Linked DNA regions of Homo sapiens: region 2 is linked to region 1. Evidence: fine-mapped expression QTL. A gene starts in region 1. The other region holds a variant in brackets. All regions are shown on one strand. Distances are from middle to middle.

What was found. PIP is the estimated chance that this variant, and not a neighbour inherited with it, causes the effect.
Region 2: its variant is the best candidate, but not a certain one, in a credible set for the expression of OTUD6B in subcutaneous fat (GTEx, PIP 0.54).

Annotation. Positions count from the first base shown.
Region 1 is chr8:91,069,082-91,072,001 of GRCh38, forward strand. It overlaps OTUD6B (OTU deubiquitinase 6B), which reads left to right and starts at 1,263. Exons shown (of 7, transcript NM_016023.5): 1 at 1,263-1,385; 2 at 2,057-2,208. The coding sequence starts at 1,304. OTUD6B-AS1 (OTUD6B antisense RNA 1) reads right to left here and starts at 1,108. Exons shown (of 3, transcript NR_110438.1): 1 at 850-1,108; 2 at 498-741. RefSeq lists an enhancer at 1,311-1,490.
Region 2 is chr8:91,204,505-91,207,424 of GRCh38, forward strand. The region is part of intron 7 of LRRC69 (leucine rich repeat containing 69); the gene reads left to right. It overlaps MIR4661 (microRNA 4661), which reads left to right and starts at 981; the gene lies at 981-1,055. The variant T/G (reference allele first, on the strand shown) is at 1,397.

The DNA of each region.
Region 1 (2,920 bases):
GTTTCCTTTGTAAAGAAATGATAACTTGGCAGAGTATATAATTCTTGGCTCAAAATTATTTTCCCTTAACACTCTAGATATTGTTCCACTGTCTTCTGGCATTTAGAATTGCAGGAGAAAAATCTGAGGTCAGCCTGACTTTTGCCCCTTTGTAAGTAACCTGCTTTCTCTGACTGGATGCTTGTAAAATGTTTCGTCTTTGAAATTCAAAAACGTCACCCGGATATGTCTAGATGCTGCTTTCTTTTCATTAAACTTTAAAGGTATCCTATGAGCCTTTTCCATTTGTAGATCTAGTTCGTTCTTCAATTCTGGAAAATTTTTTCAAGTAGATCCTTTATTGTTTCAGCTCCACTTGCTCTGTCCTCAGTTTCAGGTATTCCTATTATGCATAGATTGTATCTCCTGGACCGGCCCTCTAGATCTCTCTTTTTCTCCTCTTAATTTCTTTTCCCCTTTTCTCTGTATTCTGTGACAATTTGTCGTTTTGCACTTACTTCAGTAATTCGATTTTGTGGCCAATCCAGCGTGCGCCCTTCTGTTAACTCTCTCAACTTCCTGGTATTTTCCAAGCGCTCTAATAGTACCCTCTTTATCATCGCGCATAGGTGTTTAAGCTCCTGTATTATATGATTCTCAATCCTTCTTATATCTTGTTTCCATCTCTATATCCGTTTCAAGAGGAGGCATTTTCTCGATTATTTAGCGCTGCTCCTTTTTTCTCAGGGGCGGTATTACGACCTTGGAGACAATAAACATAATTTAATTCCACACAGCCCCAAACAGCCCAAAGATTCCCATTGATAATTATCGACGGCTTTATTAAAATGCGTTATTTTTCTTTCTTACCTTTTCAGTTGCTTTTCTTAGAAACAGGGACCAAAATCAAAGATTAAAGAGGTCCTCTGAAGCAGGGAATGAAATAGACGTTGAAAACTATTCCCGTTACGCCATCTCTGCGCGCCTCACGTCAGGGCCAAGAGCCTAGCGCGTAGCTTTATGGCTGACTCGGCTCTGGCGCTCTAGCCAATTCCGAGGCTGCAAACTCCGCTTCTCCGCTCGCAGTCTGGTTCCTCCCCTGCCGCCCCGCCCATCACGGCAGGGTCACGGTAGCGCGCACGCGCAGCACCCCATTTAAGTTTCTCGTCTTTGCAGTGGCTTTGCTTAGATCCGGTGCCGCCTTGAAGGCGGGGCTGGGTCCCAGCCGTAGCCAATGGAGCCCCGGGTGAGGGTTGAGGGGTGGAAGGTGCCTACTAGCCGGTGCAGGTTTCTTCTAGCGCGTGTGCTGGGGTACCTGGTCGTCATGGAGGCGGTATTGACCGAAGAGCTTGATGAGGAAGAGCAGCTGCTGAGAAGGCATCGCAAAGAGAAGAAGGAGTTGCAAGGTGAGGCGGAAGGAAGTGGGAATCTGGAAGCCGCCGCGACTGGGGGAAGGGCGCGTGGCGGGTCGATTCTGGGGAATCTCAAGGCGTGACTTATCTGGATCACCCTAGACTTCCCCTAGTAGCAAGTGGCCTCTTCTCTCTTCACCTACCCCGGCGGCCCTTTAATTCCCCAACCTTCAGAGGCTTCCCCTTCTGAGGCCTGCGGCGTGCCCCCTACCCCGCGCCGCCGCCGGGGTGCAGGTGTCTGAAAATACCTAGAAGCCGCCGTCTTGGTCCGCTCCCAAACCCACGATGCCTCCCTTTTCTATACCTGCCCCAGTTACCGATACTTGTCCCTAATGGGTGTATTTTGAATGGACCCGCCTCAGTTTAGGAGGTTCAGAAAGGATACCGGAAAGATTTAAAACTGGCTACAGTCAGGTTTTTTTCCTTCTCTTATCTCGCCAAACAACCGAAACATATTCAAGATTTTGTTAATGAAGTTTTTTTTTTTTTTGGTCTCAGCTTTATCTGGGATCTTCTCTCTCTGTAGCTGCCTGTTACGTGATGACTCTTTCTTCCATAATTACTTTTTCTGTACCCTTCGCCCGTTACCATCCCCTTATTGGTTCCTGTTTCTCATCTCCTTTTACTCCTGCGTGTCTGACTTAATGATTTTAATGGCTTTTCAGCCAAAATTCAGGGCATGAAGAATGCTGTTCCCAAGAATGACAAGAAGAGGAGGAAGCAACTCACCGAAGATGTGGCCAAGTTGGAAAAAGAAATGGAACAGAAACATAGAGAGGAACTGGAGCAATTGAAGCTGACTACTAAGGAGAATAAGGTATGTGAAATAAATGTTTGTCGTTGCCTACACCATTTGAAAACAGCTGTCCACTTCTGTTAAATGTTAAACTGCTTTTTTTTTTTTTTTTGAGACGGTGTCTCGCTTTGCAAAACACGCTCAATCTTGGCTCACTGCAAGCTCCGCCTCCCGGGTTCAGGCCATTCTCCTGCCTCAGCCTCCCGAGTAGCTGGTACTACGGGCGCCCGCCACTACGCCCGGCTAATTTTTTGTATTTTTAGTAGAGACAGGGTTTCACCATGTTAGCCAAGACGGTGTCGATCTCCTGACCTTGTGATCCACCCGCCTCGGCCTCCCAAAGTGCTGGGATTACAGGCGTGAGCCACCGTGCCCGGCCCTGTTAAACTGTTTATTATCTAAAATCATAAAATTGGTAGGGAAATGAAATCACTTAGTTATGCTCATGCATCACTTCTCATTAATGTTTTTGTGACCAAGTTTACAGGGCAGTGTGTTTCTATAAGGGAGATCGGCAAAGAAAGTGCTATACTTCTTTACCTATTTACTTGCCCAAAAGATGAAGCTTCACCAAATCAAAGTTGGAAGACCAGGCATCTGATCCCAGAATTGCGACTGAATGGGATTGTAACCTGAGCAAGGTTACTTAATCTTTCTGAGCTCAAATTTTCCCACATATATAATACGATACAAATATTTCTACACTCTAAGCACAGGTTTTTGTAAGAATCAA
Region 2 (2,920 bases), 140 kb after region 1:
AGTTTGCTCTGTCAGTCTGCTTCTTGGACCCTATGCTGAAAGTCTTTCACTTTACTCCACTGTAAGCAGAACAAAGGCTCCTGCATACAAGTATGCTATGTTCCCAAGGATCTCCAGAGCCTGGATTAGGCCTTTCGCCTTTCACAGCCCATGGCCTCCCCAGGGACAATCGATGAGTGCATGTGAATGCTGATAATGTATTCTTACTAGCATTATTAGTTGTTTCATAAGCTTACATTTCTAACTCCTGGATGAGATCATCACTACTTAGGTTCAGAGATACATTATCTTTCTCAAAACTGTAATTGTGAAACTTTCTTTCATGAACTTCACTATATGTGTTGTTCATCATGAGGTTCAACAAGGACAACTTTTTTTCCACCAACTTTTTAGTTTGAGAAATTGGAAAACAACACATAACTTGAATGAATAATACAATGAACATTTGTATACCCTTTACCTAGAGTTGCCGATTTTTAATATTTTTTTCCATTGGCCTTATCTGTTACTGTTTTTTGCCTTTCAGGATGCATCTTGTCCAAAACAAATTTGATATTGACACAAGCCAAGAATGTAGCCTACCTAGAAAGATTGTATTATTACTTTTCAGGGCAAAAATAGAAGAATAGATTCGAATTATAAAAAATATGAATGAATGAATGAATGGATAAATAAAGCTATCCTTCATACCAAGTAGAGAGATTTTATCAAGAGTTACAGTGGATAACACAATATATGAGCCAGAAAATATGTAGGTTATTTTAGCTATACTAACCCACGCTTAGGACATGGAGGCTCACGTTACTGGCCTGTTTACTTTCCAAGAAGCAGAGTACAGATTTTACAACAGCTGCTTTACGTAGTTCATTTATAATCCTGTAGAATGAAATCCAGGAACAGTCATCAGAGTTCACATCACCTGATGTCAGGTATTTACACATCACCTGATGCCAGGTATTCACGTCACCTGATATCAGGTATTTACTCTGAACTAGCTCTGTGGATCCTGACAGACAGCCTGATAGACAGGATCCACAGAGCTAGTCCAGAGTAAAAGACCTAAATCAGCTGTGGTTGTGGTGTAGAGCTACTACAATTTTTCTCACAATGTCCTTTACCAGAGTTTTTGACACTGCCAAGTATTGTAAAATGTTGCATGTGAATTGGGAGACTAAAAGGAAGGCTAGAAGTGTTTTCCTCTTGATCCAGTCATGTACAAATTATGTCTTACTAGACATAACCATGTGTGCTTAAGACAAAAAAATAAAAGTGGAAGAATCTAATCAGAGAAATCATTCTCATCTCAGTTACATGTATATTGGGCTTTAGTGTAGTGGTTGCCTATAAAAGTTCTCTATGAATAAGAAACAGTGATTTAAGTTGTTCAGTTTTTCAA[T/G]ACCTTGATGCTCTTGCTATGGAAATGTCTTTGTCAAAGTTGAGTTGGTGTTTATATCAGAAAGCTTTGAAGTCTTCATGGCATTTAGCAAAATTTGTAGTAATCGATTTACTTGGTGTTGGTGTCTGTCTCTACCACTGAATACTAAGCTCAAGGAATTTAAGAACCATTTTGGTTTTGTTCACCTTTATAGAGAGAGAGCTTCGGACAATACCTGATAAAATTTTATTTCTACAGAATGATAAATCAGATCTGGATTTGAATACCAGCTCCTCCTTTAATTAGTTTGTCAACATATTACATCTCTATGTATCATAAGAAAAATCTGGCAAAGGTGCTGCCAAGGAAGGCTAATGTTAAAATTTTTAAAAGCCCAGAATCTAGAACTAAACAGATAGCCAAAGAGAACATTAAAATAGTGGTTGAGCAGGAATTTGAAAGTTAAAACCAGCTGGACCTTAAATACAAAGAGAAAAGACAGCTCATCGGTGGGAAAATGAGGATAGAAATGTATGTTGGTCCTCAAGATGGGAGTAAATATGTAATCTTGATCACATATGTAGCTATCTGTGAATTGTTCACATTATCATCTGGAATGGATTGTTATATTCAAGAGACATTTAATGAGTACAGCGTGTCAGATTACTCGGAAACAGTTTTCAAAACATCCTGCTTTCCACTGGTGATGTTCTGAACACCTTAGACAAGTTGCCATGTTTAATTGTGCTCTGACAGATTCCCTCTCAAAACCATCTGATGTGCTGCTACTCTTATTTCATGTCTCTCTTTCAGAAACTACAACCTAATACAAGCAACAACAGCCAGAATTTATTTGGTACTGAGTGTGCATCTGGTGCTCTGCTAAATATGTCACCTGGAATACCTCAATTAATGTCCAAAATAACCCCATGACACCAGTAAGAAATCCAAGGCAAGGAGAAACCAAGTAATTTTGCCAATTTCAGAAAGCTGCCAAGTAGAGGATATGGGCAGGGAACTCATACATGTTATTCCTGATCCTTAACCAGAGAGTCTGGGCTATGTTTCCTATGCTTTTCCAACCTAGTTATTCCCCATTTACTTCAGCTGAACTTAAGACATTTATGTTAAAGATCCTTCTTCTGTCCTCATTTATTTATCCACTGAAACTTATTTATTTTTTTCTAACTGTGTGTCAGATTATTTGCCAGGGCTGGGAATACAGAACCCTGATCCTTGAGAAACTCACATGTTCCCAGGAGAAGTGGGATAATAAGGATTGGAATCTGACAAGTTAGGTTTGATGTCCAGCCCTACCACTTGCCACCTGTGTCCTGTTACTTCCCTCTTCAAGGCTAAGCTTCCTCATCCTGTCAAATGGCAATAATAATAATACCCATCACACAGAACTGTGGCTAGGGATCATGAGGTAATGCATAAACAGTGCTTAGTACAGTGGGTGTTCAACAAAGGTAGCATATAGTAGGTGCTTAATAAGTATTTTTTTTTATGTGTGTGTTTTGTAAACCAAGGCTTTCAGACAAG